Linked DNA regions of Homo sapiens. The protein of the gene in region 1 purifies or fractionates together with the protein of each later gene. This does not show direct contact. Each region holds a gene or a part of one and is shown in the gene's direction. Other genes may lie near its edges. The genes, in order: P2RY2, FIRRM and MARCHF6.

What was found.
Region 2: the proteins of P2RY2 (region 1) and FIRRM purify together in Homo sapiens (affinity purification with mass spectrometry; one large-scale study listed by BioGRID and IntAct). This does not show direct contact.
Region 3: the proteins of P2RY2 (region 1) and MARCHF6 purify together in Homo sapiens (affinity purification with mass spectrometry; one large-scale study listed by BioGRID and IntAct). This does not show direct contact.

Annotation. Positions count from the first base shown.
Region 1 is NC_000011.10:73,216,781-73,220,380, forward strand, and holds the start of P2RY2 (P2Y purinoceptor 2), read left to right. Parts: upstream 1-1,500; 5' UTR 1,501-1,652; intron 1,653-1,781; exon of another isoform or gene 1,782-1,876; intron 1,877-3,600. UniProt on the Homo sapiens protein: Receptor for ATP and UTP coupled to G-proteins that activate a phosphatidylinositol-calcium second messenger system. The affinity range is UTP = ATP > ATP-gamma-S >> 2-methylthio-ATP = ADP.
Region 2 is NC_000001.11:169,829,481-169,833,206, forward strand, and holds part of FIRRM (FIGNL1-interacting regulator of recombination and mitosis), read left to right. Parts: intron 1-778; coding exon 779-861; intron 862-1,215; coding exon 1,216-1,267; intron 1,268-2,936; coding exon 2,937-3,026; intron 3,027-3,726. UniProt on the Homo sapiens protein: Regulates PLK1 kinase activity at kinetochores and promotes faithful chromosome segregation in prometaphase by bridging kinase and phosphatase activities.
Region 3 is NC_000005.10:10,433,633-10,437,358, forward strand, and holds part of MARCHF6 (E3 ubiquitin-protein ligase MARCHF6), read left to right. Parts: coding exon 1-52; 3' UTR 53-3,726. UniProt on the Homo sapiens protein: Endoplasmic reticulum membrane-associated E3 ubiquitin ligase that plays a critical role in mitigating endoplasmic reticulum stress, the regulation of cholesterol and lipid homeostasis, and ferroptosis.

The DNA of each region.
Region 1 (3,600 bases):
CTGAAACGCTGTATGTCTCAGGAATGCAGTTTCCTCAGCTGTAAAGTAAGGGAATTGGGCCAGAGCAGGGGCAGAGCCCTGGGCAGGCCACCAACCAGATTTGCCCGCTGAAGGCTAAGGTCGAGCCTGGGTCCTCAACTTGGCGTCAAAGAAACTTGTTTCTCCTGGGCTAAATGGCAGTGACAGTATAAGGTTTGAAGTTTTGGAAGAGGGGAGAGAAAGAGAGGGTTGGCTGGAGTTCCAGTGCCCAAAGGGTCTTCCCCACACTGGAACCTGAAGGCCTAGGCCCTATAACTCGGGCTATGAGGATACTTAGGTCCCTGGAAGGTGCGTGGCCCAGCTTAGACAATAGGCGCAGGAGGCTAGACAAGGGGCCTTTGTGTCTCCCAAGCAAAGGCCCCAGCAGGACTGCAGAGGCGGCTCAGCCACTATGGGCTGTGTGTCCACTCTGCTACTGCTCCTGGTGGGGCTGCAGCCAGCACCCTTCCTGGCAGCCAGGCCCAGTCAGCTGATATGGAGCCCAAGAGGGCCCAAGGCCCCGAAGGCCCGGGGCAAGTTCCTTGGCTACAGGAAGAGGCCTCCTCTGCACTTGTCCAGCCAGCGGAGCGATTGGCTCCATTTCACAGGAAAGAAGACCCTGCCAGGGAATGGAACTGGGTCAAGGTCTCCCAGAGTCAGTGCTGAAGCCAGACAGGAACCTACACTCCTGATTCCTAGACCAGAAATGAGAGAGAGGCGGGGTGCTCATTCATTCATCCATTCACACCTTCAAGGATTGAGCACCTCCCAGGACCTCTAGGACAGCAGCAGGAAGAAGGCAGACCTGGTTCCTGCCCTCGGGAGCTCACAGTCTCCGAACGGGTCAGACATGCAGCCGGTAGCCCGACCAGGGAAGGCCATTAGAGTGGGGTTGACGACAGAGAAGAGAGGTAAAGCAGCTCAAGATAAGGGGCCAGAGTGGGGAGTTCAGGGAGCTGCTGATAAGATTAAGGCAGGGAAAGTGGGGAGCACGGGAGAGGCGGGATCCTGAGTACCCTGCTTTCCTAACCACGGTAATGGAGAGAGGCACCCCCTTCCCCCACTTTCAAGCAAGGGAGGTACGTCCTTAGCCTGGGGTTCCGAGCAGGTATCTCCCAGTAGGTCCCTTCCTGGCCAGCCGGGCTGGGGCAGGGGCGGGACAGGGGTAGGGTGGCGCGGTGGCTGGGCGCAAAGGTCCCGCAGTGGGCCACGCAGGCACCGGGCTGACCTGGCAAAACTTTGGCGTCTCTGAAAACCTCTGGTAACCAGCTCCCTTCTAGCGTGAGGGAGCCGGGAGGCCTCCTTCTGGCCCGGCAGTGAGAGCGTCGCCGCCCGACCCTCCCGTTGCAGCACCGGTACAGACACGCTGACCCCGCGGCCTTGTCGCTGGGCGGCGTCCCGGAGCGGGTGGCGCGGTGTCTACCCGGGCGGGTTGAGGGCGGTGCCAGGGTCAGTCAAAAGTCCGCCCCGCCCCCTGCCTGGCCCGGCTTCGGGGTTGGGGAACAGCGCAGGGAGGTGGGTAGCCGGGCTCCCAGGCACGTGGGTCTCTGCGGCTGCGGCGGGACCCGGGCACTGGCACCCGGGAGCGGCGGCGACGGCACCCTGAGAGGAGAAGCGCAGCGCAGTGGCGAGAGGTGGGGTGGGGCGTCTGGAGGGAACAAGGCGCTGGGAGAGGCCCGGGGAAGCGGCGGGCCAGACTGGCGCAGGTGCGGACTGGGCGCGGGGCAGGGGAGGGCGCTGTGGAGCGGCTGTCGCCCCGGGGCACAGTTGCGAGCCGGCGTGTAGCGCATAACTGGACGGCTTGAACGCGCCTGTGGGTCCGTGGTTGAACTTTGTCTCCACGGGAGCGTCGGTCTCGGTGAGTGTGGACGGGCGCCCCAGTAGTGAGGCTGTGCGCGTCAGCGTACTGGGGAGGTCTGCGTGTTAGCGGGTGAGTGTGTGCGCCCCTCGGGGCGACTGGCCAAGCCTGCGGAACTTGTCTGTGTGTGCTCCGATGTGAGCGTCCCCGTGGCGTGAGGCGGTGGCCGGTGCCCAGAGACGCGAACCCCTGGAGACCCCCTACCACTGTCCTAACCCCAGGGTCACTCTGGGTGGCCACCTACCATTGGTAATGTTGAGGGGGCAGTTGCAGGGAGTGGGCGGGGGAGGAGGGAGTGGCCAGAAAGGACAGTTAAGCCTCTGTCCCCGGGCTTTTAATCTGGCAAATGGTGCGGTAGAAAGGGTCAGTCAGGAGAAAGGCGATACCCCACCCCCCAACCCGAAGGCTGCCAGTGGCCCTCTTGGGGTCCTCCAGGAGCGCAGCCCAAGGGTTGGGGACTGCTGGAGACCAGAATTGCCAGCTCGGGATTTGTGGGGTCCATGGCTGCTGTTCCTCTCAGCATGGCATCCCCAGCTTCCCAGGACCACAGCCTGATCTGCCTGGTTTGTTTTGGATCTAAGCTGAAATAATTATGAGTTTTGAGGATCTGGGTGGAGACCCAGGCAAGTTTATTACCTGTGGGTGGAAGTGGAAGGAAGAAGATTCTCTGAGCAGACAGGTCCACAAGAGAGCTCTGGAGACTCAGAGATCTATGTTCCAATCCTGTCTTGGCCACTGTGTGGCCTGGGCAAGCCGTCCTTTCTCTGAGCCTCAGTGGCCTCGTCTGTAAGAAGGGACTAATGATAAGGAATTTGAGGGCTGTTGAGGAGCTGATGAGTGTGTCATGTTCAGCACCAGTGTCCCCCCATGGGCAGGCTCACAGCTTGGGGATGGGAAGTCAGTCCCTGGAAGGAGCCTCCCAGAACCAGAATCCCAACTGTGCCCCTCCCTAGGGCACAAGCCTTCCACAGGACCAAGCCTGAACCCTGTAGCCTGGGACTTAAGGTATTTGATAACTGGGGCCTGCCAGCCTTTCCAGCCACCTCTCCCGCCTGACTCTTTACCTTGCAGCAGCTGCCTGGAGTCTCTCATTTCTTGCCCCTGGCCTGTTGCATATTCTACACTCCCTCTCTGATAAGCCCTCCTACTCTCACCTTCCTCAACTGGAGAACTACCCAGACTTGGGACCCAGCTCAGATGTCCTCTCCTCTGGAAAGCCTTCCTTGATCCCTACAGCTGGGTTGGAGCCTCTTCTAGGCCCCTACAGGCCTGGGGCTGACAGCCCTGGTCCCACCTGAACCGTCATGATCTATGTCTGTCTCCTCCTTTCCTCTTCCCAGGTCTAGGGGCTCCTGGAGGGCAGAAACTGGGTCTTATTATTTCTGTGTTGCCAGCACCCTGCACAGGGCTGAGCTGAACTGAGAGAGCAGCAGTGGCGCCCATCCCCTGTCTCTGGCACCAGCTTCTCCAGTAAAGGCCCGGCTGCAGGGGAGCTCCATGTCACTACAAAGAAGGGCAAACCAGAATCTGGTTATCAAAGTGGGTGGCACAGTTTGCCAGAACAGTGTGATCTGGGACACTGTAGGACCTAGAGTGCCCAGGCTAAAGACCTAGAGATTTTATCCTGAAGGCAATAGGGAGCCATGGAAATTTATGAGCAGAGGTGTTTCATGGTCAGAGCGGCATTTCAGAAAGCGCTCTCTGGCTGCAGGATGGAGAATGGA
Region 2 (3,726 bases), on another chromosome or scaffold:
GTTACACTTTTGCTTTCTCTTCATTGAAATTGTGATTCATATACAGAAGAAAATGTGGGAATACTTAGTATATTCCTTTTGAGTGAAACTTAGTTGTGTCCTAGAAAATGGTAATCCCAGATTCCTGTATTATTTAGATCTAATATTTGGCTAAAATATTTGAGAAAACATTTTGGGTGGGGAGGTATGCAAAGACAATGTGAGAAGAGGAAAAATATGTAGTACTTAAGTAAGTTTCAAAAGAAAAGTAAATAGCTTGTAGTATCAGGTCTCTTATAGATCTCAGACATAATATAGATTTTAAAAAGGATAGAATTTGATTTGAAAAGAGGTTAAGAAATTCTAGGAATTCGATACTTGTAATATCTGAAATTTAAAGATCAGTAGCATTTCAGATATTACACAATATCTAGCACCTATTAAATGTTGTATGTGAATAAAGGCAGAAAGAGGAATATAAGCATATATGTTATTTATGTTGTTTTGAATATTTCAGGCTACTTAGAGAATCTTTGTGGATCCTAGTGACTGAGTTATTACATTTAAAATCATGTTGAACTCTCCATAGCACAGCACAGTACTTAATGTATAGTAGGTGCTCAATAAATATTGAGGGAATGGCAGTGTCCTTTCAGATACTAGAAAGTAGAACTCCCCCATTGAGGATCTGTTATTTGGATTCTGATAGTGCTTTCTTGTTTTATTTTGAGAAATATAATATTATTGCTTATTGTGAACTTTAGTATTTAAATAAATTAATTTTTCTGTTTTTGATTAGGATGCTGCTCTGCTGAATGCTGTACTTAGTGCTAATATGATCACCTCTTTGTTAGCTATGGATGCATGGTGCTTCCTTGCTCGGTACAACATATTTGCTTTTTTGTTCTTTGGATTGGTTATTAGTAGTGACTGACAGTAGATAATTTTATAATTGTAAGCTTATAGAAAAACTGTTTCAATAATCCTTTAAAAATAATTCCCAAAACGCTTTGATTTCATATTACAGCATTAAATTAGGAAACAAGTTCTTTCTTTGGTTCAAGCCAATAGATGAGTACTGTTTAGGGAGTTTTGTATATTGTGATATTATTTGGTCATGGAAATAATGGCAGTTTTTAATGTCCTCATCAGAATATTTAGTGCTTTATGCAAGTTCATCTCCTTATGTTTCTGAGTAATTGTATAAACATAGTTGTCTTCTCTTTTATATTGCAGATATGGGACTGCTGAACTGTGTGCACACCATGTCACCATAGTGGCTCATCTGGTGCGTAGAATTACAAGGCCTAAAACACCCACTTTCTATGCACTTCCTTTGGGGATATGATAATCTTTAAGAATGTGAATATCGGCGGGAGAAATATCACAGTAACAAGATTGTTTTGACAGTCTTTGTCTTGTATTAATGCTGATGCTTTTAAGAAGGATGTACTAAAAAACCGTTAGTGTGAAACTGGGAATGTTTTCTCATATTCTCAGGATTTTATGTAATTTCAGTAATTGTTCTGGGAAGGAAAGACTGGGTTAATTGAAATTACATTTAAAATTGAATGCAAAGTAGAAAATAAGAGCGACTTATAATTGATGGCCAAGAGGTTTCTCTCTTCTGTCTCTCTAATATGCCTTAGACAAGTCGACTCTTGATTTTGTTGTATTTTTTTTTTAAGTCAAGATGATTTGAGAGGAACTTGAGTTTGACATTGATAGATACTTTTGGCAAAAGAAGTCATGTTTTATGAATGGGTACAGACAGAAAATTATTTTATAATGATTTCATCATCTTAACATTAACATTTTTTGCTTTTAAATTCTGAGGTGTTTTATGTGTTCCATATAAGATGATTATGACCTATTTGTTACATATTTTTTTCCCTGGCCTTTAAGATCTTATGTGGGCCATACATCTTTTGTTTTCTAATAGTCTTATTGTATCATATATTTCTTGGTTTACCTTTAAAGGATTTTGTAGATCAGATCCAGTGAGGTGTGTAATAACCTGAACAGCTGACATCTATGTCTCCATGGCTGATGGTCTGGATTATCACTTACACACTTTACTAAATCCTTAACATATCTTTCACAAAGCAGATAAAGAGTGATTTTTATGTTATGTGTTTTATGTCTGAAGTTTCCTTTAAATAAAAGCTTTCTTAGTGCATTATGTTGTAGGAATGGATTTCTTCTAGTTCATTATGATAAAATTGATTCCAGGATGGAATGATACTATATTATGATAGGAATTGATAAAATTGAATTTATAAAATTTTTTTGTTAGTGGTGGTTTTTTTCTTAGAGACAGGGTCTCATTCTGTCACCCAGGCTGGAATGCAGTGGTGTGCAATCATAGTTCACTACAGCCTCAAACTTCTGGGTGCAAATGGTCCTCCTCCCTCACCCTGCTGAGTAGCTGGGACTACAGGCATGCGCCACTATGCCCAGCTGATTTTTAAAACTTTTTGTGGATATGGAGTTCTTGCTGTGTTGCCCAGGCTAGTTTCAAACTCCCGGGCTCAAGCAGTCCTCCCACCTTGGCCTCCCAAAGTGCTGGGATTACAGTTGTGAACCACCACACTCAGCCCCTGTAACATCTTTTAATGAAGCTTCTGTCTTGTAGAGTTTTATCTACCTCTCTACTATTGTAGTTAGATCTTAAAAAGTTCCATGAATTGTCTTTGAGTAGGAGGACTGACATACCCAGTTATCATCAAAATGATAATTAGAAATAGAAATTACAGTGTTAAATATGTCAGAAGTTCAATCTCATTCTAAATTTAGATTCATTGAAGATAAGAAAAGCCCCAAATTAAAAGTCAATATTACCTACAATCTTTTCCCCTAGAAAGAGCTGCTATTAATATTTTGGCATATTCTCTTCTTGTAAAAATTCTGATTCTAAATTAGTCAGTCTCTCCTCTCTCTCTCATGTCTTTTTCCAGATAAAGTCATGCCCTGGAGAATGTTATCAACTCATCAACCTATCAATACTGTTGAAGCGTCTCTTTTTCTTCATGGCACCACCCCATCAGGCAAGGAAGGATATCATCTTTGTCACTGTCTGTGAAGCTGCTCAGAGTTGGATTCAGACTCCTTTGATAGCCTTTTTTTTTCCATTTTTAAAAATTTATCTTATTATTTTTTTTGAGACAGAGTCTCGCTCTGTCACCCAGGCTGGTTTTACAGTGGCTCGATCACAGCTCACTGCAGCCTCGACTTCCTGGGCTCAAGCAATCCTCCCACCTCAGCCTCCTGAGTAGCTGGGACTACAGGCACACACCACTACGCCTGGCTAATTTTTAAAAAAATTACTTGTAGAGACTGGGTCTCACTATGTTGCCTAGGCTGGTCTCAAACTCCTGGGCTCAAGTGATCCATCTCTGCCTTCCAAAGTGCTGAGATTGCAGGTGTGAGCCACTCTGCCTGGCCTTGCCTCCATTTATTTTAAATTTAAATACTGGTGTGATCTAAGCATAAATTTTTGACGTTGATTGCTGTGCTTGTTGCTGGGTATAGATTTTGATGTCCTTGCTTTGAGTTATAGATAATTATTCTAATTCTGTCTTCCTGAAATAGATCTTTCCCCTTATTTTTCATATATATTTGAGATACATGATATGAAATGGTTCTATATCCCCTGCCCCTTTTATTTTGAAGAGCTAGAATATTATTTTTGCTCTTAGTGGTCTTTACTTACATAAACCTGTATGGCCTAGTGCAGTCCCTCAGACT
Region 3 (3,726 bases), on another chromosome or scaffold:
ATCTGGCAAACAAGGCTCATCTCCACCACCTCCACAGTCATCCCAAGAATAAAGTAGTTGTCTCAACAACTTGACCTTCCCCTTTACATGTCCTTTTTTGTGGACTTCTCTCTTTGGAGATTTTTCCCAGTGATCTCTCAGCGTTGTTTTTAAGTTAAATGTATTTGACTTGTGTTCTCAGCATTCAGAGAGCAGCGGTGTAAGATTCTGCTGTTCTCCCTGGATCTTCTGACATTACTGCTGTCTGAGATTTGTATATGTGTAAATACAAGTTCCTTGATACCCTAAAACCTTGGATTAAACAGAATGTGCATTGTACATCTTTAAACAAAATGTATATTAATTTATTAAATCTAGTTGTCACTTTATTTTGGACCTGCTGTGATCTCGACAGGAAACGTGCCACAGAGCAGTAGTGCGCAGGCAAGACTTTTCAGTGACGCCTTGTGGAACGCAGTTCATGATGTCCTAGCAGCTCTCACTAAGGGAACTGTACATTCTTTCTTTCTTGGCTATTCAGACCTTACCAAGAACGTTAAAGGAAACAAGTAGAAATCAGCAGTGGAGTGTCTGTGGTAAGAAAACATGAACTTTATGCTTCACTGTTAGTTGTTTGTGGAAGTTATTTTGTATAACACCAAAGCTGTTGTACATTTCCTACTGCCTGATTTTTTTCATGTGTCTGTGTTTGTAATATTGTATAGTATCTTGTGCTAGGTGAGGAAATTATTTTTAATTTTGATAATTTAATATTCCTAGTGTGATCAGCATTGGGAGTTGGGTTTCAGTGGGGCATGTCTATACTTAGAGAAAAAAAGTCCAAATGAAGATTTTCATGAGTCAGCCCCCCCGCCCGCCCCCACCCCACACCCACATCCTCTCTTTTCCACACACAACTATCTGTTTATTTTTTGTAGCAGTGGCCGAAAGTCCTGCAAGGTCATAAATCTTTCAGAGTGACATCACCAACTGTACTGCATCTTACTGGATTTAGGACTTCTGAGATGCTTGTGAAGTATAGATGTGGTTGTGGTCTTAGATTGACAGCATTAGAGAAGACTGGTTAGAACATCTGGTCTCGCTGGTTAGTGCCTCGTTGGCTGAGGACTAGGTGTGCATTTCTCCTAGCTTTTCATCAGGAAATCCCAAAGTTTCCAAAGCTTTTTGTTTACAGAATAAAACTTCAAATAAAACCAATTCATTATTTGTCCAGAAGGAAGCTTGGCTGAGCTGGCCTTTTAACATAGGAATGTATTTCGTTGGAAACATTCTGAAAAATCTCAGAGAACTGAACCCTTACAAACTTTGTTTTCCCTCATAACCAAAGCTTCAGGTTAGAAGTTTAGAAAAATAGAATGGTTGGGTACATGATCTAAATGTTTAATGCTAAAGGTATATCGTAAGGGTAGTGTTTGTTTTTGAACGATAATTTAGAAGTTCTCATAGAAAGCGTATAACATAGGTCTTCAGAAACTATAAAAGAATTTTCATATAGTATTAAAATCCATAGACTAAAATCTGAGAATTTTTTAACATATGCAAGTCAGCCAAACATAAGCTACCAAAATAAAGAGCAATGTGTTCTGGCTGTTTTATACTTCAACAATTTTTTCCCTAAGTGGTAAGCAATTACTTTAAAACATATTTTTAAAAACATCGGTATCGGGAGCTGCGGTGGCTCCGGCCGGTTGTCCTGGCACACAAGGAGGCGAGGCTATGCGTTCGAGGCCAACCTAGGCAAAATTGGAAAAAAAAAAAAAAATCAGTATCAGAAATAATGCTTGACATAGGATTCAGTGTTATACTCTTTGGCACTTTAGAGCAGCCTTTTCTCTCATTTGAAATAAGGTCTTTGTTAGCCCTACCTTTACTCAGAAATTTAGTCCTACTATAAAAAATTAGGATTTTAAAATATAATGCTGCCTGTCATAGTGTATTTCTAAATTGCTCTCTTTGGGAGAAAAACATTATTATTGAATTGAGCATATAACTATATAACTATATAACTATATATATATATATATATATATATATATATATATATATATATATATATATATATATATTTTTTTTTTTTTTTTTTTTTTTTTTTTTTTGCCCCCGAGACAGAGTCTTACTCTGTTGCCCAGGCTGGAGTGCAGTGGCACGATCCTGGTTCACTGCACCCTCTGCCTCCCAGGTTCAAGCGATTCTCCTGCCTCAGCCTCCCAAGTAGCTGGTACTACAGGTGCGTGCCACCACACCTGGCTTATTTTAGTTATTTTAGTAGAGATAGGGTTTCACCATGTTGGCCAGGCTGGTCTCGGAACTCCTGACTGCAGGTGATCCGTCCTCCTTGGGCTCCCAAAGTGCTGGGATTATAGGTGTGAGCCCCCACGCCTGGCCAACTTGATTATATTAATTTTGGGTTTTTTGTTTTGTTTTGTTTTGTTTTTTAATTTTTCAAAGAATTTGTGGATCTTGGTATAAAGTCATTGGAACATATCTGTTTTAACAGCAAGAGATCCTAGGCAGATACTTCAAAAGGTTAAAAATTCTTAATCCTACAGAATTTTAAATGAATCTTATCAATGTTTTGTAAACAAACAATATGAATGGCCAAAAAATTGCCCTCCATTTTACTGGCAGGTAATTTATATTGTCTTACTTAAGAATTCTCCCCTAGTTTTTCAATTGTACTTTATCGTGTTGTTTTCAATGAGATAAGTATTTTCATAGGGAAAGCATTTTCCAGCATAATATTTGCTTGGGTAGCATCCGGGTTTTAGTATTTAACCAAGAGCCTTTTAAATATTGAAAACCCATAGTTCAGAAAATGTTAGTATTGCTGCCCTTCTTCACATAAATTTTTTTTTAAATTATACTATTATTTTGCTTAATTTTATATTGGGTTAAAACAACCTTCAAGAAGGTTAACTAGGAAAGAAGACCTTTTTGTTTTATTTTTACTATTTATATATAGAAGACAAATCAGCATTTGGTGATAGTTTTACATGACCAGTTATCAAACGGTCATAGTATGAAGTGTGCAGTTGTTCATTATTAGTAAATTATGTTTGATTTTTAAACTATTTAGTACTAATAGTTGAGATGAAAACTGAAGAAAAATGCCAATGTGACGTTTGTGTATAGCTAGCCTTAAAAAACTTCCCATGTTTTTAGGTGACTTTTTTCCCCCTCTTAGTACTCTGGAGAAACAATGAAGATGGGCCATCTCAATTCCAGATGTAAACAAAAAGTAATTTTTATTTCAACATTTAATGTAACTGCTATTATTGTGGATTCTTGTCTTGTGTATTTTCTTTCCCTTATTCAAGTAATATAGAATAACTTTCCTTAAAATGATTTGATCCAAGATACGTCATTTCTGTATTGGCAAAATGCCACTATTAAAGTGTAATTCTTGAATTTAGGTTGAATTGATGACTTTTTAAAACAAAACAAACACTGGACAGTTCTACATTGTATTGCGTTTGCGAATGTGCGTGAACACACGCACACGTGCAGGAGAATGTAGTGCCATAAGAACACTGGCGCTTTTTAAAACTTTCCAAGCTAGCTACTTATTTTCATTTTCAGGGTTGAGTACTCTAAGCTCTCTACTTACTGTGAGAAGTTTTCTACATTGTAAAATTAAAAGATTATATTTAAAATACTTCTTTAGGATGTTATTCAGCCATCAAAAAAAAACCCAACTAAAATGTCTTACCAGTAAAGTATTATTAA